2 separate regions of the Homo sapiens genome follow, and region 1 is linked to region 2. The links come from fine-mapping of genetic effects on gene expression. A gene starts in region 2. The other region holds a variant in brackets. All regions are shown on one strand. Distances are between the middles of the regions. Region 1 overlaps TMEM135 (transmembrane protein 135). Region 2 holds the start of TMEM135 (transmembrane protein 135).

The links. PIP is the estimated chance that this variant, and not a neighbour inherited with it, causes the effect.
Region 1: its variant is the best candidate, but not a certain one, in a credible set for the expression of TMEM135 in prefrontal cortex (GTEx, PIP 0.53).

What each region holds. Positions count from the first base shown.
Region 1 is chr11:87,321,402-87,333,090 of GRCh38, reverse strand. TMEM135 (transmembrane protein 135) reads right to left here. Exons shown (of 15, transcript NM_022918.4): 15 at 4,267-11,689. It also overlaps the pseudogene LOC100420680 and the pseudogene PSMA2P1. Among named protein-coding and RNA genes, the nearest start is that of TMEM135, 290 kb to the right of the region's middle. The variant T/G (reference allele first, on the strand shown) is at 6,795.
Region 2 is chr11:87,031,852-87,043,540 of GRCh38, reverse strand. TMEM135 (transmembrane protein 135) reads right to left here and starts at 5,607. Exons shown (of 15, transcript NM_022918.4): 1 at 5,355-5,607. The coding sequence starts at 5,495. LOC105369422 (a long non-coding RNA gene) reads left to right here and starts at 5,746. Exons shown (of 5, transcript XR_007062827.1): 1 at 5,746-5,917. RefSeq lists a silencer at 5,586-5,975 and an enhancer at 5,632-6,132.

The DNA of each region.
Region 1 (11,689 bases), 290 kb before region 2:
AATCTACTTTTTAACTCCTTTTTTGGGGGGGCGGGGGGCAGGGTCTCACTCTGTCACCCCAGGCTGCAGTGCAGTGGCATGATCTCAGTTCACCGCAACCTCTGCCTCTTGGGTTCAAGTGATTCTCGTGCCCCAGCCTCCCGAGTAGCTGGGATTACAGGTGCACACCACCACAGCAGGCTCTTTTTTTTTGCATTTTTAGTAGAGACAGAGTTTCACCATGTTGGCCAGTCTGGTGTCAATTTCTTGACCTCAAACGACCCACCCTCATTGGCCTCCCAAAGTGCTGGGATTACAGGCATAAACCACCACGCCTGGCCTTAACTTATTTTCATTTCTTCATTAGAATCGTGTCATTTCCACATATTTGGGGATTTTCCAGACATTTTATTTTTGTCTCATGTGTTTTTGTCCCTTTGTTCTCTCTTCACCACCTTCTTTTTCTTCCTTCTTTTCAATTAACTAAATTGTTTTTAATGATTCCACTATATTTCCTTTGTTGGCTTATTAACTATAATTTTATTTGTGGGGGGAAAGAAATTAGGGTTTATATTATGCATCTGTAACTTAATGCAGTTTTCCTTCATGTAATGTACTTACTTCATAGCACATAAGAAACTTACAATGGTATAATTTCATTTGCTGAATCCTGAACTTTGTGTGATTGTTTTATTTTGACATGTGTTATAAACTCCACTATAAACTGTTATTATTTCTGCTTTAGGAAATCAATTATCTTTTAAATACATTCAAAAATAACAAAAAAAGTTTATTAATACATTGTATTTTCATCTCTTACAAGTTATTTTCTGGTCCCTTTTTTATCTTCTATATCTCTACTTAATATGTTAAACTGGCCTCTACTTTCTTGACCATACGGCATATAGCTGTGATGTTCTTTTGCACTTATTCTATTATTTGCGTCATTTCTGATTCTATTTCTATCACTTTTTTCTTCCTCTTGCAGGATGTATTTTCTGGGTGTTTTTTTGTTTTGTTTTGTTTTTGTTTTTGTTTTTGTTTTTTGGTACTTCGTTCTAGGAGACAGTTATTTGGAAACTGAGGCTTTTTTTTTTTTTTTTTTTTGAGACGGGGTTTCGCTCTGTTGCCCAGGCTGGAGTGCAATGGCACGATCTCGGCTCACTGCAAGCTCCACCTCCCAGGTTCACGCCATTCTCCTGCCTCAGCCTCAGCCTCCTGAGTAGCTGGGACTACAGGCACCTAGCCACCACGCCCGGCCAATTTTTTGTATTTTTAGTAGAGACGGGGTTTCACCATGTTAGCCAGGATGGTCTCCATCTCCTGCCTCAGCCTCCCAAAGTGCTGGGATTACAGGCATGAGCCACTGTGCCCAGCCGGAAACTGAGGCTTTTAAGCTTCAATAGGTAAGATGAGACCAGCCTTTAGTCTAGGGTTAATTTTGCTCCCCTATGAGGCTCTATTTTCCTGACTACTCTATCCAGCACCCTTTGTAAAATGAATTGTGCTACTCTGGCTAGCAGGAACACAAACTACTCGCTTCCTTGCGTGAACTCCAATGATTGCTCCCTCTGCTCCTTTCGGGTGGTTCTTTCTCCAACCTTGGTAATTTTCCCATGCATGCCGAAGTACTCAGCTTATGTCTCAAGGGGGACGCTCTTGAGATCTGCAAGCCTTTTTTCTGTGCAGCTCTCTCCTCTTTTGTACTCTGCCTTATGAACTTCATCGACTTTAGCCTCTCTGGACTCCCACCTCTGTTCCCTCAACTCAGAGAAATCTCTGGTTTCTCTCTTAGTTCTCTTTCCTTAGGCTGCAATCTGGAATCTCTCTCCAGATATCAGCTAGGGGAATCATAAAACACAACTCATTTGTGTTCCTTCTTTCAGGATTGTTGCCATTCACTGCTTCATGACTAGTGTCTGAAAACTATTGTTTTATTACATACAGTATTGTCAGGTCTTTTAGTTGTTTCAGATGAAAAGGTAAATCTTGTTCCTATTCTTTTAGTTAAGCTGAAAGTAAACATCAACCACTTTGGGAGGCAAGGGTTTTTATTTCAGTGATAAATGATTAATTTTAAGGGGAGTGAGTAACGATGCTACTTAAAATTTCAACTCTTGGAGATCTGAGTTCAAATTCCAGTATTGTTACCTTGGGTAAATTACCACACTTTTTGATTCCCAGTTCCCTAGCTGATAAAACAGAACTAATAATACCTACCTGATAAGGTGTGAGGATTGAGTGAGATATAAACAATTTACCACATATCAGAGGCACACCTCTTAAATTTTAGTGTCCTTCTCTTTCCTCTAAAAATGAGTATCAGAAGCTATTTGTTAGAGCCCTACCTATATTGATAAGAGTGATTCCAATCCTTTTCCTCTCTCAAATATCTAAGGCCCTATCTGTTATAGAAAAACAACAGCAACAATTTTTTTTTACCTTAATATGCTATTCAAAGGCCAGACATAAAATATAATTCTGGGAAAACTGCCTGTGATTTTTCACTCTGTGAAACTAAGTGGGAAGGGGGAGCCTCGTGTCCTGTCCTGTCTACTTCTGGTTTGGATTTTGAAGTTTTTAAAGTGGGGAACAATCCAGAATTCCAGCTCTGTCAGGAAAAAAAACAAACAAATGAAACAGATGACAAATCATTTGTCTAGGACCTGAAGCCAAACTGGCTTCAATAGCTGCTGGGATAGTAGTAGGAGCCAATTTCCTGCAGTATTTACAAAATCATTTGTAAGAATAATATTTTCCAGACTTTTATAGGAAAAATTAAGTGTGAATTTTTGGTCTGCAGACTCCATAAAGTTAGCAGGCATCCAACAAGCAGCTGCTGAGAAAACCACCTCCCATCCTAACTCCACTCCCTTTATAAAGGCCTGACATACACTCAGTTGGAGGATAAGCTGTAGTCTTTGCTCTTCAAATATATACCACAACCTAAAAGAGCAACAGATGAATACATAGCTAATCAGAATCAAATGAAATGTGCTTTATTGGGGGTATTAGCAAACTGCTGCACTAAGACAGAGAGAAAAGGGTTATCTGGATAAAGATGGAGGAACTTAGTTACAGCTTCTCGCTGACTACATTGGGCCTGTCTAGTAAATTTGTCCATATTGAATAGGCTTTGGCTGCTCTAGCTGGAAAAGCCCTTTCAGTGGGAGTTAAAGCAGCAAATGGCATGGTATTAGCAACTGAGAAGAGCAGAAATCTATTCTATATGATGAGCAAAGTGTACACAGAGTGGAACCAATTACCAAACATACAGGTTTGGTGTATAGTGGCATGGGTGCAGATTACAGAATGCTTGTGCATGGAGTTCAAAAGCTAGCTGAGCAATACTATCCTGTTTACCAAGAACCCATTCCCACAACTCAGCTGGTAGAGAAATTAGCTTCTGAGATGCAAGAATACACCGAGTCTGGTGGTATTTGTCCATTTGGAGTCTTTCTACCTATTTGTGGTTGTGGGGGACAGACATATTTACTCAGGCAGATCCATCTGGAGCTTTCTTTGAATGCCACAGCAATGGGAAAGAACTGTGTGACTGGGAAAACTTTCTTTGAGAGAAGAAACAATGAAGATCTGAAATTTAAAATGCCATTCATATAGCCATCTTAACCCTAAAGGAAAGTGTTAAAAGGCAAATGACAGAAGATAACATAGAAGTTGGAATCTGCAATGAAGCTGTATTTAGGAAGTTTAGTTCATCCAACTGAAGTTAAGGATTACTTGGCTGCCACGGCATAATAATGAAGTGACTGAAAAATCCAGAATTTCAGATATTCTATCTACTTAAACATGTTTAAAGGATGTTTTGTTTTGCAGGCTCTTTTTAGATTTATTTCTATATGGTTAAAAACCAATGTTTTAAAAATGACACTTATAAGGCCAGGCACAGTGGCCCACGCCTATAACTGGAGAACTTTGGGAGGCTTAGGAGGGAGGATTGCTTGAGTGTAAGAGTTCAAGACCAGCCTAGGCAACACAGTGAGACCCCTGTCTCTACAAAAAAACAAAAACGAAAACAAAATTAATCAGGCATGGTGGCATGTGCCTGTAGTCCCAGCTACCAGGGAAGCTGAGGTGGAAGGATTACTTAAGCCTGGGACGTCAAGGCCACAGTGAGCCATGATCATGCCATTGCACTCCAACCTGGGTGACAGAGTGAGACCCTGTCTCATTTATACACTGCTGGTGAGAATGTAAATTAGTACAACCTCTACAGACAACAGTATGGAGGTGTCTTAAAGAACTAAAAGGAGATCTACCATAAAAGACACTCGTATATATATTTTTATTGTTAACACAGTTCACAATTGCAAAGATACAGAATCAACCAAAGTGCCCATAGACCAATGAGTGGATAAAGAAAATGTGGTATATATGCACCATGGAATACTACTCAGCCATAAAAAATAAAAGATGAAATAATGTCTTTTGCAGCATCTTGGATGGAGCTGGAGGCCATTATTCTAAGTAAAGTAACTCCGGAATAGAAAATCAAATTCTGTATGTTCTCAACTGTAAGTGGGAGCTAAGCTATGGATACACAAGGGTATACAGAGTGATATAATGGACTATGGAGACTCAGAAGGGGAAGGAATAAAAAGCTATATATTGGGTACAATGCACACTATTCTGGTGACAGGTGCACTAAAATTTCAGACTTCACCAATATACAATTCATCCATGCAACCAAAAACCACTTGTACCCCAAAAGCTACTGAAATAAAAATAAGCAAATTCATTCCTTAATTAAATGACACATAAAACATAATCAACTAAGATTTTTTAAAGATGAGCAAAACCTTCAAAGACGAGATTGACAGTATTTTAGCATACACAGAAGAGTGGAGAAAAAGAGAATTCTAAATCAAGAGAGAGAAGGATATAATGGGAAATGAAACTGAGATCTGATCTATACAGAATTGGAATATGTCCATTAGAAATGTTTTCAGCTGAAAGTAACAGAATTCTTGGGTAATAGAGCCATAAAGCCTGTGATGGTTAATTTTAGGCATCAACTTGACTGGATTAAGGAATATCTAGAGAACTGGTAAGGCATTATTTTGGGGTGTGTCTGTGAGGGTGTTTCCAGAGGAGATTGGCATGTGAGTTAGCGTGGACTAGGCAGAGAAGATCTGCCCTCAATATGGGCAGGCACCTCCAATCCACTGGAGGCCTGGGTAGAATAAAAACAGAAGAAAGGAGAATTGGCTTCTCTCTCTCCCCTGCAGCAGGGATACACTCTTCTCCAACTGCCCATGGACATTAGGACCCCAGATCCTCTAACCTTGGGACTCCAGGACTTAAAACTATCACTCCCCCATCCCACCCCCAGGTTCTCAGACTTGAAAATTCAGCCTTGGACTGAGAATTACACCATCAGTTTCCCTGGTTCCAAGGCTTTTGGACTTGTACTGAGCCAGACCACCAGCATCCCAAGGTCTCCAGGTTATGAATGGCCTGTGGTGGGGTTTCTCAGCCTCCACAATCACATGAGCCAACTCCCTTAATCCCCTCTCATATCTCTCTCTGTGTCTCTCTCTATCCCTCTCATATCTCTCTCTATGTATCTCTCTATCCCTATTGTTCTGCCTCTCTGGGAAACCCTGACTGATACAGAACTTTAAGAAATAGAGGTTTATTTTCTCAAAATGCTCAAATGCAGATGGTTAATGGCACCATTCAGTGGCTCACAGAAGCAGGTTCTTTCTATTTTTCTGACCTGGCATCTTTAATATGCTGGTTTTTCATGTTTGTACTTTTCATTTCATGTCTGCAAGATTGCTGCCACAGATTCAGACCCTACTGACTAATACTAATACCTTGAACAAGAGAAAAAGAGGTAAAAAGAACTTTCCTTTAAGCAGAGAGGGAAGATTTTTCCCAAGTGTTTCCCAGATTTTCCATTACATTTTATTGGCCAAAACAGGGTCACATGAACACCTCCGAGTAAAGGCTGGTTGGAAAAGTATCTGGACAAGAAGAAAGGAAAGACATGAAAGGCCTAGAACAATTATGATTCATCCCTGGGGCTAGGCATGTAACTGTCTTAAACAACATCAGTGTTCCCTCAGCAAGGAAAAACTGCCACTAGTTGAGCAATTAACAATGACTGCAATCCCATTTTTGAATTTTAATCCAAGTTATAGGAAGCGTTTTAGTGAAAAAAAAAAAAAAAAAAAGGTCCTCAGATGATTCAATGATGCCTCTAGTTTCATAGATTTATTTATCCTGCCCTTTGGTTCTGAAGAGAGCCTTAGTGCTATCCCTGAGCAGTGACAGGCTATCAAAAACTGCCGACTCAGATTCAGATGCAACTGAATTTCTTCCTGAAGCTTTGCAGATATTATTTACCTTCAATTTTCCCTGAAATAAATAGAAAAATAAGGACTCCTGTTTTTTCCCTTGAGAGCTCAAGATGAAGAAATACATAGCAAAGATATGGCAGGAAAGCATGGGCCAGGAAAGGTAAAGAAAAGAATAGGAGAAAAGAGATAAGGCTTAAAATATGTTTATAGTCTCTTCTCTCCCATTCCTTTTGGCATCCAATCCCATAATGACCAACCACAGAATGTACTTCATGCTTTAAACCTTTGGCACTATAGCTTCAGGGTCCTCTTAGGTGACCAAAAATAATCTGAAAAGAAAATTAATTTAAGAGATCGATTAACTACTGGAAAAAGTTTAATAGACACTGAAGAACTAGACTTCGAAAATTAACTGGTCCTAGTTCAGGGATGGAGGAAAGTAGTAATGCAGGGTGACCTCAGCCAACATAGGTCTACAGGTCTACTTTA[T/G]GGAAGCCTGAATCTCTCAAGACAGAAAGGGATGCTGAGTCTAAGCAAGGCAGATAAAGCATGTTGTATGCCTATGGCCTCTATGCCAAGACCAGGGAACATCCTATTATCCACGGTCTGACAAGATTAGAATGTTATGCTCTGCAGAGGCAGCAGGCTGGGGGTGGGGGAGAGTATGGCACAAAACTGAATATTAAAAAAAAAAAAAACTGAACAGGCAAGCTATAGTAGTTTGTGAGCTAAAGAAAGAAGTATAAACTGCTCTTGGCCCTGATGTCCCTGTTGGTGACCAGATGGTATGTGTGTCTGTGGTAATATACTGGGATTTTCAGGTCTGCTGGGACAAAAGATAAAACCCAATACATTATTTCATGTAAAACATATTCGTAGGAGGGACAGATGGAAAAAAAATGGAGAAAGTAAAAGAAAATAGGAAATTCCAGAGTCAAGTGATGTTACGGGGTTTTAAGAAGAGAAGAAATTAATTGTTCTGGATTTAAAGGCTTCACATACAGAGAAACATCTCCTTCCATATCTGTGCAATTATCTTCTACATCATCCTGCCTAAGAAAAACAGAGCATATAAAAAAAAAATCAGTGTCTCTGGAAATGTTTACTCCATTGTTATCACCGTTATGATCACTCCAGAGCCTCTCACTTGAACGGCTGGCTTAAAAGGTTGCAATGAAGTCCAAGGAGACTAGTTAACATAAAGTAACACCAGCAAGCAGAGAATGGACAAGGTGGCAGGGAGAGGGAGCAGCAAGAGAGACAGACAGAGAGAGAGAGAGAGGGAGAGAGAGAGAGCCCACATAAAACAGCAACAGAATAATTTCCAAAAGACCAGATATAAATTCTTTCCTCCAACCAAAAGTCAATCATTTTCTTCTGTGTGTAAAATAGCACACATTCTTATTCACCACAGCTGTAAGCTTAAGGCCATTCACTCACTACTCTGCTGTAGTCCTATGACACTAGCTATATCATGGCCAACTTACTGCCCCACTTCTGTTTCCAGAAGTCACACACACTAGAGTCAGTTTCATTTCTTTGTAGTTACCCTTTTTGCAACTACAGGGCTATTACAAAGTCACCTGAGGCCACTACTTTAAACAGAAACATAGTACTACAAAGCCCTAGAATCTAAGACAGCCCCCCAATCTGAGGGTCATCTCAGTCCTTGACACTCCTTTCTTTGTTAATTCCACAAGAAGAAGAAATTATAGAGCTGGCACCAATGGTGGCTTCAGCACCAATAGTAAAGGGCTGGAGGCAATTGTAAACATCACCTCCACAATGAAGGTAACCTTATTACTCATCACATTCAAAGTGCAGCCCTAAAGAAAATAATCACTTCTTATTCCTTTTCTTGTATTTTTTTCTTGGCCACTCATTTTCAGCTGAGTGAAGTATTCTACTATGTGAAAATGATTACTAGAAGGAGGTGTTAGGAGAGAGAATGTTTATAAGATATCTTAGTAAGAAATGTATACTTTTGCCTTTGGGAAACAAAGGACAACTTTGTTGCTGTGTCAAACTACTTAATACTCATACAAATAAAAATATGGCTAGGTACCGTGGCTCACACCTGGAATCCCAGAGTCCCGGGAGGCCAACCCAAGAGGATCACTTGAGGCCAGGAGTTTAAGACCAGCCTGGACAACATAGCAACACCTTGTTTCTACAAAAAAAAAATAAATAAAATAAATATTAGCCAGGCATGGTGGCACATGCCTGTTGTCCCAGCTATTAGAGACTGAGGGGAAATAATTGCTTGAACCAAGGAATTTGAGGTTTCAATGAGCTATGATTGCACCACTGTACTCCAACCCGGGCAACAGAGCTAGACCTCAACTCAAAAAATAAAAAAATAAATCACACGGAGAATTTAAGGAATCTCTGGGCTAATAATTTCTCTGCTCCAAAAACAACATTTGGGCCATTGCTCCAGTGGTCAGTTCCCTTCAGTCCCACAAGAAGCTTCCTAATTAGCACCAAGGGAGAGGTTGTGACACAGGCAAGTGGACGAAGCTCCCTGAGAGTAAAGGACATTGCTTTTCATTACCTATGAAATGTAGAGCACACAGAAGCTCAGGGATATGATAAAATATAAGCAGGAAACAATTACGTCAGCATTAACAACTAAATGAAATGTTAGCCTAGATACAATCTACAAGGAGACGAACACTCGAGCACAACAAGAAAATACTGTGTGACATTTGCTCAGTTTGGATTCCATCAAAAACATACATGTTCAGTCTAATAAAAGTTCATTATAAAATCTGAGAGCCAAAAAAATATAAAATTCTAAATTAAATAACAACTGACTAAACAACGAATGAAGGCAAAAAATAAACTAGATATCAACTGAGTGATGACTATGCTTATAGTTCAAGAAAAAAGTTACAGAAGCAAAAGCAGAATTTATGGGAAAATAAAACTAAACCAAAGGTGTTACTTCAAAAATGAGTAATAAAATGGATCCTGAAATTATTTGATGAAAAACTGCTGAGAATTGAATAGATTTGAGACAATCTGTTATCTTGCAAACTCAATCTTTACTCGGTTGCTACTAGTTCTAGGATTTTATTAAAACAGAAAATAGCAACGAAATGACCATAATACCACTGCCCCAAATGCACGGTTTTTCAATCTCAATCTATATAAAAATGTCAGAAAGACTAAGGGGACATATTATTGTTTACTGTAATCAGTTCCAGTGAAAACTTACCATTTCTTCAGGATATAAATAAACTAAAAAACATATTTTGGAATGCAGAGATCTATTTTACTTTATTTATAATGCCAAAAAGTTGTCAATCAATACCTGATTAGTTAGAGGTAGAAAGGTAATCATTCTGATTGTCTTCAAAAACACAAAGTTTCTTTGTGTTTGCTCAAACAACTACACTTTGCAGTCTGTCCCAATGAAATCAAACTGGACTTCTCAATCCACCACTGCAAATTGGTTATTCACTCAACCTATACATTCATCATTGTATTCTGCTTCATGATAGCTATTTCATTTTACATTTTACATAAAATTTAAAAAAATGACTGCAATTTATAAAAATGAAAAGGTAAATTGTAGAAATACACCTTTTTGACCAGCAAAATTTTACTAAACAATCTCAGCAAATTTCGTAATTCATCTTTCAATATCACAGTCTTTTAATGTCAATGAAAACAATAATTTATGAATTAAAACATCTTTTTAAACCTGACAGGAAAATATATAAGCACAATTTCTGGATAAAGAAAATGAGGTGCAGTTCTCAGGGCTTTAGTACTTCATTTTAAACAGTAAACACAGTACCAACCATCGTTTTGATTCCAGTGAATAAAAAGTTAAGATTAAATTTATTAATCAACTTTGAAGTCTGAAACCGAAATGATCCTTTAACAGCATTGCCAAATAAACAGGTCAGTTCTACAAAGCTAATCATAATGCCAAATTTTGACCAAATGATAAAGTGGCTCTGTTACCATAGTACCAGAGTCTGTCTTTTTGTTGGGTTTCTGTTTGCCATAACAACCAAGGATTGAATTACATTTAAGCAGAAGTATACAAGGCTTGATGAAATTGAATATGAGGGATTAAGCATTTTTAAAGTATGGGTTATAATTCCTTTTGCAACACAAGTTCTACTGCATAATTTGCACTGGCCTAAAAACTTTTTAGCAACAAAATGTATTTTAAAAATATCATCATCCCTACATGTCACATTAACTGTAGACCACTTCAGCTCTTTATTAACATAGAAAAGTATAACTTTTCCCTGAAAAACTGTAAATAGCGACCATATTTCAATCACAGCTGTCCTGAACTACTCTCATTATCAGCAGGACTTTATGGTGTCACCTCTTTATTCTAACAGTAAAAATGGTGACAATGATATTCAAGAAGAAGGTTGGAGAACCTGAATGGAATTAGTGACAAATGGACTTTTTAAACAACCACTGGATTTTTATAGTGTTTTCAGGTGCAAAACATCCATTACATAAGTTAAACAGCTGAGAGGACACAAACTGCCAACTTGCCAAGACTACTTTGTTCCATAGGATTTTGATCCCTTCTAATACAACAATGGCATATAAACTGAGCTATGAAGGATTATGTCCATATAAATGAAAACAAACATCATAAACCTATAGGAAGTTTAAAAGTTTTGTTTTTAAATATTCAAGTGTAATACTTCTGTGAAAGATTAAAACATACATTTCAACTTTATCGGATGTGTCCATTTCCATTTGCCCCTAACTTGCCATTAGTACATAGGTTCACTGGGCTGCCAAATAGCCCAATTAACTGGTCATGAAGAGAGATGATGTTATTAGTTGAAAAAAAGCATGGATACCACGACATTTATCCAAATGGTATGAGACCCATCTTTGCATCCCTGAAGTAAGAATGGCCACTTCTCCAATTAAATTGCTCTACACGAAAGCAGCACTGTCCGTGGAGAGTTACTTCAAATCTATAACATTCCACTACTACAGATACCAATTCAAAACTTTAAAAAAATATATAGACCAAATCCATGTACCCGTGATCCTTTGTAAATCCTAAAATGTAGAAATAATCCTAATTTTAATCAAGAATTATATTGGAATGAACTAAAGACATCTTTTAAAGTAATTTTAAGTGTACTCTTGTTTGTTATTACACTTCTACGTAGATTATATAATATTGCTTGTGGACATAATTTGATCAATAATATATAATGTCAGTCACTACAGTGATCCAGAATCTTATTCTGGCTATGGAGGAAGCTTAATTATTAAGCAACATCTTCCTAAAAAGCTTCTGAATTTCTGATTCATAAGAAAAACAAAACAAATGAAAAGAGTATCTCTAACTGAAATAACACTGAAGTTCGAGCTTGGGCCCCCTC
Region 2 (11,689 bases):
TGTTGGCCAGGATGGTCTCCATTTCCTGACCTCGTGATCCACCCGCCTCAGCCTCCCAAAGTGCTGGGATTACAGGCGTCAGACACCGCACCCAGCCAACAGTTTAATAACTGTTTCATATGTATGTGTGCAGCAAGGGGTACCACCTATTTAGAATATGTAGCAATAACTAACATTCAAGAAATACAATATAAAATTCTAAAATATATTTTTGGTACATGCATACATTGTTACCGTATATCACAAAATATGTAAGAATCTGCTTTTTAAAAAAACTACAGAAATAGGCTGGGCCCAGTGGCTCACTCCTGTAATTCCAGCACTTTGGGAGGCTGAGGCAGGTGGATCACCTGAGGTCAGGAGTTCCAAACCAACCTGACCAACATGCAGAAACCCCGTCTCTACTAAAAATACAAAATTAGCCGGGCGTGGTGGTGCATACCTGTAATCCCAGCTACTCGGGAGGCTGAGGCAGCAGAATGGCTTGAACCTGGGAGGCGGAGGTTGTAGTGAGCCGAGATCACACCACTGCACTCCAGCCTGAGCAACAAGAGCGAAACTCTGTCTCAAAAAAAAAAAAACAAAACAAAACTACAGAAATAAATGATGAGTGAGAGCTGATATTCTTTACAAATTGTGAAAACACAAAGATTCACTATTATAATAAAAGGAATCATACATCTACATTTTGAAATAGTTTAAACAGTAGAAGATGAATACCGACTAAACAGTTGTAGATACTAAGATTAAAAGAAGCATGAGGGCAAATGTATAGAACAAGAAAGTAAATATGACATGAAGAAATCAGTTTAGTACAACACACATGATAATGTTTCCAATGAAAAGCAGATACATAAGACCCATTTTATAGGCTCCAGAAAACACTCTTGATAAAAATCTTCCTTCATGTTGGGGCTCAGAATACAATACCACAAAATGAAGGCCTCAGAAGCAGCCTTAGAAGCAGAAGTTTTTTTCTGACCTTCTCCTGCTCTCCTGTCTCCTAGTCCCACTCTCCCCTGAGCTAGCCTTAGAAACTAGAATTTTCCCCAAGGCAGGTCATAAAAACCAAAACCTATTTTCCCCAAAGCCAGCCATAAAACTTAAAATATCATACTAACTTTCCCTTTGCCTTTCCATGTAAAAACTGGCCATAAAGAAACTATCTGACCTACCTTGTTTGACTGTAGGTCATAAGCCCCCATTCCAGAGAGGGTCCTGCCCCATACTCAAAAGAAAAGAAGGAATGCTCAGAGAGGCCAAGAAGAATTTAGACAGAGAGGCCAAGAAGAATCTAGACAGACAGACCTTGCTTCCCCAATCAGTCTATTACCATTATTGTCCAATCACATTTCTACATAGCTGTCTATACTTCGTTGAACCTAAGCATAAAAACAGATAATTTCCCCTGTATTTTTGGGTCTTCATTCTGAAGGCTCCCGTGTATACACGTTAAATAAATTGGTACATGCCCTTTCTCCTATTAATCCATCGGCCTCCTGTCAGTGATTTTTGGTGAACCTTCAGAGGGCCAAGGGGAAAGCTCTCCATTGGTCCCTACACCAGCTTGTCTTTAGAACTTCTCCATTTCTAGCAATAATGGCAACTGCAACAATCTGACTTGACAACCTAGAAGTATAAAGAAGTCCTCATACTGCCCCAATATCCTTGGTCTCTAAGTCCTGTTCATTCTGCCACAAAATGCCTCTAGAACTGCCCTTTCATCTTCTCTGGCAGACCTGCCAAATATGTCTTCACTCCCGCACTATTCATATGCTTATTCATTCATACCTTCACTCATTTAGACATATATTAAGCATTTAATGAGGTACTACACTAGTCTAAATACAAACCACTGTTTTAACAGAAGATAGAGACATATATCATAATTAATGCACTATTACCCTATTTAACTCCTCACAACAGACCTTAAAAAATGGGTACAATCATCTTCTGCAAAGCAAGGGGACTAAGGCTCCATGCGATTCGGTAATTTTTCTAAAGATCATATTGATAGTAAATTGCAGGGTGAGATTCCACAGGAGTTCTGACTCTTTCCACTACTTAGTGAAATTGCTGCATCAATTTCTCAAAAATCTTTTCTATCCGGTCTTCCCAGTGCTACCAGATTTAGCATCTGAAAGCATCATTTTGTACTTGTAACCCCTTTGTTCAAAAAGAAACCTCAATAGCATGCACACAGAACAGTGGCTCCTTTAGCCTGTCCTTCAGTCTTTCAGTCAAAAAAAAAAAAAAATGAGAACCGAATCCTGTCTTTTTCCTTACTAGCTCTAAATCTTGTGAATCACTTAATGTCTCTAACCTTCAGGTATCTTACCTATAAAATGGGGATAATAAGCTGGGGTTGTGTAAGGGTTAAAAAAGATAAAATACGTAAAGGACTAAGCACATAATAAATGTAAGTTGTTATCGCTCACAACTCCTGTACGCAAACGTTCTGTTATAGACAATGTATTCATTGCTTCTCTTACAAAACCACTTAGTTTTCTGCCTCAGTTTACATTATCCTCCCTCCTCTCCATTAAGAATAGGTATGCTATAAATGTCTACTGCATGAATAAATGTCTGTATAGCCTTACCCTCAAGGCACAAGTCAAGGGCCACCTACTTCAAGAGGCCTTCCCTACCCACCTTCCATGAACTTCACTCTTAAGTGCCACCGGAGAAGGGAGGAAGAAAAATATGCGTAACTATTCAAAACCTATGATAAACTAGAAAATATGTGATACATCATCAATGCATGATTTCATTTAATTCTCAAAAAGAAAGATAAAGTAACATATACAAAGTCAAATAGCTGGTAAATGATAGAGCTGAGATTCAAATCCTGATACCCTGATCCCTTTTTTTTTTTTTTGTGATGGAGTTTTGCTCTTGTTTCCCAGGCTGGAGTGCAATGGCATGATCTCAGCTCACTACAACCTCCACCTCCCAGGTTCAAGTGATTTTCCTGCCTCAGCCTCCCGAGTAGCTGGGATTACAGGCATGTGCCACCACGCCCAGCTAATTTTATATTTTTCGTAGAGATGGGGTTTCACCATGTTGGTCAAGCTGGCTGGTCTCGAACGCCTGACCTCAGGTGATCCACACACCTCGGCCTCCCAAAGAGCTGGGATTATGGGCGTGAGCCACTGCACCTGGCCTGATCACTTTTTAAAGTCCAATTTCTTTCCACCACACCACCTTGCATCTTAGTACATGGGGGTATACATTTAATCAACTATCCAACACTCACAAAGAGAACAGCTATATGCTCCAAGTAGCCCCACCCATACCTACATGGATAACTGAAACAAAACTGTCATGAAATAATGCTTACCCTTAGTATGCGCAATATGTCCTAACATTTTTTATTTTCTTCCATTTCACTAATATAAAATAAAATGCTATTCAGTTCCCACTAATTTTATTTCACAACTACCGAGGAGTAGCAACCAAAATTTTCAAATACACAGATGTAAGGGTACAAGGCCACATGAGATGGAAAATTTATCCTCAATAAGTACTTAATCTTGTTGGAGATATAGTAGTAAAACACAACTCTTTTCCTGAACACCCCCAACCTACCTTGTTGGAGTAGGAGAACCTATGTTTCTATTGCTACCCTGAATGTCCCTATCATAGACTATAATCCATAAATTGTCTAGGCTATTGATATAACAAGTATCAGGCATTCAACAAATATTTGTTAAGTGAATGAATTAATGAATGAAAAGTGCTATGGATTTTCAGAGGGAGAAGTAGATAGCATAAACTCTCTTTCCACCTATATCATAATCCTCTCACAGCAGGAACAATCTTTTCTATAGTTGTATATCAAGAGCTCAATAATGTTTGTAGATGTTTTATTTTTTACAAATCTGAGCCTTATGCAGTGAGCCGTGATTGCGCCACTGCACTCCAGCCAGAATGGCAATACAACAAGGCCCTGTATCCAAAAATAAAAAGAAAAATTCTGAGACATAGACTGGCCACAGTGAATGTGGAAAAGCAGATAAACATGAATCTTTGCCAAAGAAAATCAAGGAAAAAATTTCCAGCTCCAATAACAATTACTGGCCTCTACTCTAGATCTTTATTATTCAAAGTGCAGCCCCCACCATCAGCATTACCACGAGTTTGTTAGGAAAGCAGAGGTTCAGGCCCCACCAGGACCTAATGAATTAGAACCCCCATTTTAACATAATCCTCAGAGGATTCCTAACATACATGAAAATGTGAGAAGCATCAGTCTATACAATAAAAATGAAATGGGTGCCTGCAACCTCAAACAAAGTCATCACCTTCTCCTGTGTTATCTCTGAAATACATAATCAGACTTTTCAAGAAGTACTACAGATACAGCCATGACACACTTTCAGGAACATTAGGGTATAAATCTAAATTACTTCAATGAGAAATAATAATTGATCATCTGCTGAATATTGAAACTTTTAGAAGACATACAAAAAATATGATCTGTCTTCTTAGGACACAAACTGTAAGGCAAGAAAATGAGACAATGCACTTCAATGGCCAAAGTAATAATAAATCTTTAATATCAAGGATAAGATTATTGAAAAAAAGATTTTGCGGAGAACATTTAAGAGCATCTTTAATAGTCCTCAGTGTTACATATACATACTGCCAAATATTCCCTATTAATTGCCCTGTATGTAAAGTTGTGTAACAGAAGGTCCTAGGTGACACAAAGTCAGATGTCCTAACCAAGTTCACTGACTGAAAGACTGGCATCACCCTTTAAATCACCACACACAATCTCAACCCAGGAGTCTGTTCTGTGAACTTGCAAAAACACTTGCAAAACCCCCAAATCACAATCCTGTCATCTCAAAACTGAGTCAAGATCTGAGGCCACAGGGACTTAGGGCCAAATATGCCTTCTTCATTAAAAAAAAAAAAAAAAAAAAGCAAAATAAAACAGGGGAAACTAGATGAGGAAAGATTGCAGGTCCTTCTCATAGCCTCGCTGACCTACAAATACCTCTCCATCACAAGGCAGGCCAGAGGAAAATAAGGCTGGTCTTTGAATTAACGTTTTTAAGTGTCCTAAACTTAATTCTAAAAGTTGGGAGCCATCCTCTTCCTAGCAACAGGCATTCAGATGACAGCTCAATCTCTAATTCCCCTCCTCCTTCTCCCTTGCAGGAATTGGTATATCCTTCCCTTGCGACCTCCCCCTTCCCCCTACCGACCCCCCAAAACACTCCGACCCCTCCAAAAGAGAGCCCGACACAAGGCAAGTCCCCCAGAGCCCCTCGGGAGCACCAACTGCAGCCCCCGGCCCATCTTCCAGACTAAACTCGCCCTGCGGGACGGGTGACGGGTCTCACCAAGTACAGAGGAGCATAGATCTTCAGGGACTCCTCCAGGGCGCCCCCGGTGATCTGCAGGAAGGAGACCCGGCAGGAAGGGTGCCAAGTGTGGCCGATCTCATAGCAGTTATGAGGGATGGACTTGCTGAGGGCCGCCATGACGAGGAACAGCGCGGAGAAGACAGGAGGGGGAGAGCCTGAGCCCTGCAGGGAGGGGCGCGAGAGCCCAGCCGCCAGCCTCTCGCCCGGCCAGCACTCGGAGGTGCGGAATGGAGGGGAAAGGTCACGAGAGCGGGGTTACTCTGGGCCAAAGTCCTCGGATGTTGAGCGCTCGGCGTATCGCAGCTCAAGGGGGCGGGACGCGCACCGGGGAGGCGGGGAGAGGCGGCGCGTGCGCGCTCCCTCAAGAGGGCATCCGCTGGGGCGCGTTCCCGCGCGGCGGCGCGGCTGGGTGAGCGGAGGCAGAGAGGATCTTCGCACCCAGAGCCGAGGCTGTACGCGAGGGAGCGCAGCTCGGGGACGAGCCGCCTCCCCACCCCCGCGACGCCGTGCCCGGCTCCGGGGCGCAAGCGCTATGGCAGGTGCGCAGTAGGGGGTGGCTTGGGTCAAATTGTACTTCAGCTTCCAACTGCAAGCCAAGTAGAGCGGAGGGTAGTGGAAGAAAGGGATTAAATGTCTTTGTTGGGAGCTGGTGGAGGAAGAGGGTTGCCAGAGGAATGCCTGGGACAAACGTCCTCCCCAGCACCGGGAGCTTGCCTTCCCGAGAGTCCCAGGTAATAAACAGCTAGGGCTGCCTGCTAGTTGCAACTAACTACCCCCAAGTGCTGGGCTTTCCAAGCTCTGTGATACCTGCGAAGGCTTGAAAAGTCTCAGCTATGTTCATACCCCGACCGTGTGTGGGGAAGGGCAATAGGTCATCCTGTCCAAACCTTAGGCCACGGAGCAATCCTGTCTACAGCATCTTTGATAGGTGCTTATCAACCAAACAGCACACACAGTAGAGGCGGCAGTCGTGTGTTAGAACTCAGACCTGGCTAGGGAACTTGGCCAACAATTAGCAAGACAAGGGTCCTGTGTTGCTTGAGTCATATAACCCCTCTGTCAATCTCCTCACATGTAACAAACCTGCCAGTTTCTTTGGATTTCTAAATTCCATAGTCTCTTAAAGCAGAAACGAACTACCTTTAGAAGAATTCCATTCGAATCTTCTAGTCTTCATTCATTCATCTACAAATATTTACTGAGTCATTACTATTTACCAGGCACTGTGCTAAGGAAACAAACAGAAACAAGAGAGACAAGATTTTTATTTTCACGAAGCTAGTATTCTAGAGGGAGAAGACAGAAAATAACAAAGAAAACTGAACAAGATAATATCAGATAGGTGTAGTTGTTTGAAGAAAATAAAAGAGAAATACTCAGATGAAAAGTCCAAAACAACAATGGCAAAAAGATAAAAGTATCTTTCTCTCAGGTAAAGGTAGGCAGTCCTAGAATAAAATGGTGGCTCCATAACGATTAGGGATCCCAGCCTCTTTGTGACAGTTTGCTATGCCATCTGCTACCTGTGATTTCCACCCTAACTTAGAAAATAACATGACATCAACATGCTAGCCAGGAAGACCAGCAAAAGGGGAAGAGAGGCCGGGCGCGGTGGCTCACACCTGTAATCCTAGTACTTTGAGAGGCTGAGGCGGGTGGATCACTTGAGGTCAGGAGTTTGAGACCAGCCTGGCCAACATGGTGAAACCCTGTCTCTACTAAAAATACAAAAATTTGCCAGAAATGGTGACACGCTCCTGTAATCGTAGCTACTCAGGGACTGAGGCAGGAGAATCGCTTGAACTCAGGAGGCAGAGGTTGCAGTGGGCCAAGATCACACCACTGTTGCCTTGGCAACAGAGAGAGACTCTATCTCAAAAAAAAAAAAAAAAAAAAAACGGGGGGGCGGGGGCGGGGAGAAAAGGGCATACTTCCTGTTTTTAAAAAAACTTCCCAGAAGATCCATACAAACTACTACAACTTACGTTCCTTGGACAAAGCTTAATCACATGGCCACACTTCATTGCAAGAGAGGATGGTGAATACAATCTTTTTTAATTAATGGGACAAATGCCCAGCTAACATTTGAGGTTTTATTACTGAGCAAAATGGAAAAAACAGATATTAGAGGCAACTAGCAGTGTCTGCCATAGTTCTATGTCTCTGGCTACCCAAATATCCGGGCACACCATTCTTTCTACAGATAGACATACCTTCCCTTTTCCAAGGGAGACAACCTAAAATTCCATGCAGTTGCTGAATCCTAGCCAAAGTCCAGAATATTCCTCAGGACCAGATGCAGATCTCATGATAAAGTTATCATCCGCCTCAACACATCCAATATACAATGGTAGAATAGGAACAAGATAATCACAATTTTTTTCAAATCTCCAATTCAGAAACTAAGAAGATCAAAAACACAGCATAAACTTATCCAAAAAATTACAGAAATAGCAGTGCAGGCTTATTTTTTTTCAATAATCCATTCCTGAATATCTGTGATCCTTTCACAAGAAAATGCTGAATAGGAACTTAGTTTTAAATGGGAAAAAATAAAATGCATTACATATCAACCAAAAAATTCTTAACAAGTATTTAAAACATAGTATCAAATATTAACAAAAAATGATCATGTTAAGATGTACAATACTATACAAATAACATCTTATTCACCAAACAATTAATACGAGCTGGGCACGGTGGCTGATACCTATAATCCCAACACTTTGGGAGGCTGAGCTTGGTGGATCACCTGAGGTCATAAGTTCAAGACCAGCCTGGCCTATGGTGAAACTCCATCTCTACTAAAAATACAAAAAGTAGCCAGACATGGTGGTGGACACCTGTAATCCCAGCTACTCAGGAGGCTGAGGCAGGAGAATCACTTGAACCTGGGAGGCGGAGGTTGCAGTGAGCCGAGATGGTGCCACTACACTCCAGCCTGGGCAACAGAACAAGACTCCGTCTCAAAAAAAAAAAAATTTTTAATATGATTGTTAACTCTCAGTTGCTTCTGAATGTAATAGCACAATATAGTTTTCATGCCTGATAATAAACAATATGTTTACTATGTGGCCCAGCAATTACACATTAATAAATAAGGAAATTTTAAAATTACAATTAAAACCAGGTGGTTTCTTTTAGTTAACTGTTTTTTGTTTGTTTTGAGACATGGTCTCACTCTGCTACCCAGGCTGAAGTGCAGTGGCGCAATCACAGCTCACAGCAGCCTATATCCCCTGGGCTCAGGAGATCCTCCTGCCTCAGCCTCCTGAGTAGCTGGGACCACAGGTACGCCACCACACCTGGCTAATGTTTTTAAATTATTTGTAGGGTCTCCCTGTGTTACCCAGACTGCTCTTGAACTCCTGGGCTCAAGCTGTCCACCCACCTCAGCCTCCCAAACTGCTGGGATTACAGGTGTGCACCAACACACCTGGTCCTAATTAACTGTTAAATGGAGACTTGAAGCATAAAGAAATTTGAGAAAAAGGGGATGGTGCCAAAGGGGACAATGCTGATGAGCTGGGTGGCAAAGGGGTGATTTCAGGGAAACTCCCAAGTTCAAAAGAAAGGATACTCTATCTTTTCTAGTGCTGCTATGGAGATTCCAAAACAGGAAGGCATTGATAAATCCTCAGGGGAGATGATCTGTGCTTTAGGATGCAAAAAAAATTGCAAAATGGAGCAGTATGCAGTTAAACCAGTAGCTTACATTTGTAAATTTCTTTATATGGTATTATAAGATATAGCAGGCTGTTTTTTAAAAGAAAGCCTTCTCTTCATGCCACCATTAAGTTTAAAGATAATGTTAAACATTGCATCTGCATGGGTCATTTATTCTTTTAGGTTGGCTATGACAGTGGCTTGATTGGATACTTTCTGGGGGCTTCATTGTTTCTTCTTTTTCATTAAAAAAACGCAGGGAGGGCTTTAGGGTTCATCAACAAGGTGAAGCAAAGAGTTTCTCCAAAGAAGGTGCACAGTGGATGAAGAAAACTAATCTGGCAATTTATGATGGAATTCAAAGGCTTTGAAGAAACGCCAAGATGAAAATTGTTGCCCCTTTCTTTGTGATGGAAGAATGAAAAAAAAAAAAAAAACACAAAGTTGTTGCTCTTGTAGGATTCTAGTTTTGAAGATGTCAACGAAAAAGAATGGAAGAGCTCTTAAGATCTAATGCAGAGGATTTAACGACACTAATCTAGTTTAGATCTACATGCAGTCATTGTAGAAATAATTATCAGGCACAAGTACAATGGCAAAGTACGGCAAACTCGAAGTATGACACTGTAGTAGCTCTTGATTCCAGCAACAGTCAGTAACCAAGCTTTTCACAAAGCTACATATGATTCTGATTTTCTTTTCTTTTCTTTTCTTTTGAGACGGAGTCTTGCTGTGTCACCCAAGCTGGAGTGCAATGGGACGATCTCGGCTCACTGCAAACTCCGCCTCCTGGGCTCAAGTGATTCTTCTGCCTCACTAGCTGAGATTAGTGGCACCCACCACCACACCCGGCTAATTTCTGTATTTTTAGTAGAGACGGGGTTTCACCATGTAGTCCAGGCTGGTCCCAAACTCCCTGACCTTAGGTAATTCACCTGCCTCAGCCTCCCAAAGTGCTGGGATTACAGACATGAGCCACCATGCCCAGCCATAATTCTAATTTTCTACTAATTTTTGTTGCAACATAACTTCAGGTTTTTCCTTACGTCATTTTATTTAAAATATTGAGTTTCTAATATGTAAATATAAATTTTAATATTCAAATCTGGAGTATTAAAAGATACATATGCCCTTTCAGTCCAAGTAGGCAGTGTGTCTGCCAATACAATTCTCTTTAAGATTTTGGGGACTTCATATATATCAAATTATAATCCACTCCAATAGAAAAAAAAGCCACACTCACAAACCTCTGAGACAAACACTTTCCGTCTTGGGCTGAGAGTAAGAAAGCTGATGGAAAACACCCTTATACACTTAGAAGTGCTTTTGTCTAGCTGAAATGGTCTAGGTAAAATGGCTTTAAATCTTTGTACAGTCTTTACAAAAAATCTAAATAGCTGCACCCTGGATTGTACCTTCCCCTTAAGGCAATGCCTTAGTTGTTTCACCATCTGGAGAGGCTGGAAGTGAAAAGCAGTTTTATTTTTGAACCCAAAGTTCCCAGACTGTGTATATTTTCTCTAAATTTTGCTTAAAAATGAAATTGTTCCTTTTATATCTCACCTCTCTACATCTTATTCCACATAGGTTTTTTTTTTTTAATCAGTTGGCATTTTCAACAGTCTGTCTGGAAATTTCCTTAACTGCAAATACACCAGTTTGTTAGATATATTTTCTATTTTCTGCATTTCAGCATGCAACAGTGTTGCCAAACTTTCTGCCACTGCATAACAGGGATCCCTTTTTCTCCAGCCTTTCCTAACAGTTTCCTCCCTTCAAGCCTTCAAAGATTGTAGAAAAAACTCTCAAGTGGCCTTACAAAATATTCAGGTACATACACTGTCTAGAATTCTCAGCATCTATATTAGTTTGATGTTACCAGTACTTGGAAGCTACAGCTAAGGACACCATTCTCTCCAAACCCCTACCACTCCAACCACAGAATGTAAAAGTAAAAGATACTTTTGGAGGCTGAGGTGGGAGGATCACGAGGTCGGGAGATCGAGACCATCCTGGCTAACACAGTGAAACCCTGTCTCTACTAAAAATACAAAACAAATTAGCCGGGCATGGTGGCAGGCGCCTGTAGTCCCAGCTACTTGGGAGGCTGAGGCAGGAGAATGGCGTGAACCCAGGAAGCGGAGCTTGCAGTGAGCCGAGATGGTGCCACTGCACTCCAGCCTGGACAACAGAGCAAGACTCCATCTCAAATAAATAAATAAATAAATAAATAAATAATAAAAAAGTAAAAGATTTATGATTATTCTTTGAGAGGAAAAACACAAAATCAACATGTAGATGTGTACAAGGAATGCTTTAGAGGCCAGCCACATCTCTCTAAAAACAGTAGACTTATGCAATAACATATCTGTAGAAGACAAGTGTATTGATAGAATTGGAAGAAAAAAAAACGAGGAGCCCCCTGAGGCAATTCAGGTGCATGCCTGGGAATGAGAACTGCAGCCCAGGGACCTCAGGAATTAACTATGAAATGGGATGCATAGCTTCTCCTGGACAGATGTCATTAAATAACTGACTCATCTAACTAATGTTTTCTTTCTGAGAATAAAACAAACTTTTATTACAGTTTGGCTTCCCATGCAGGTCTGTCTTGAGAGACAGAATGGTTATATATTAGGTAACAG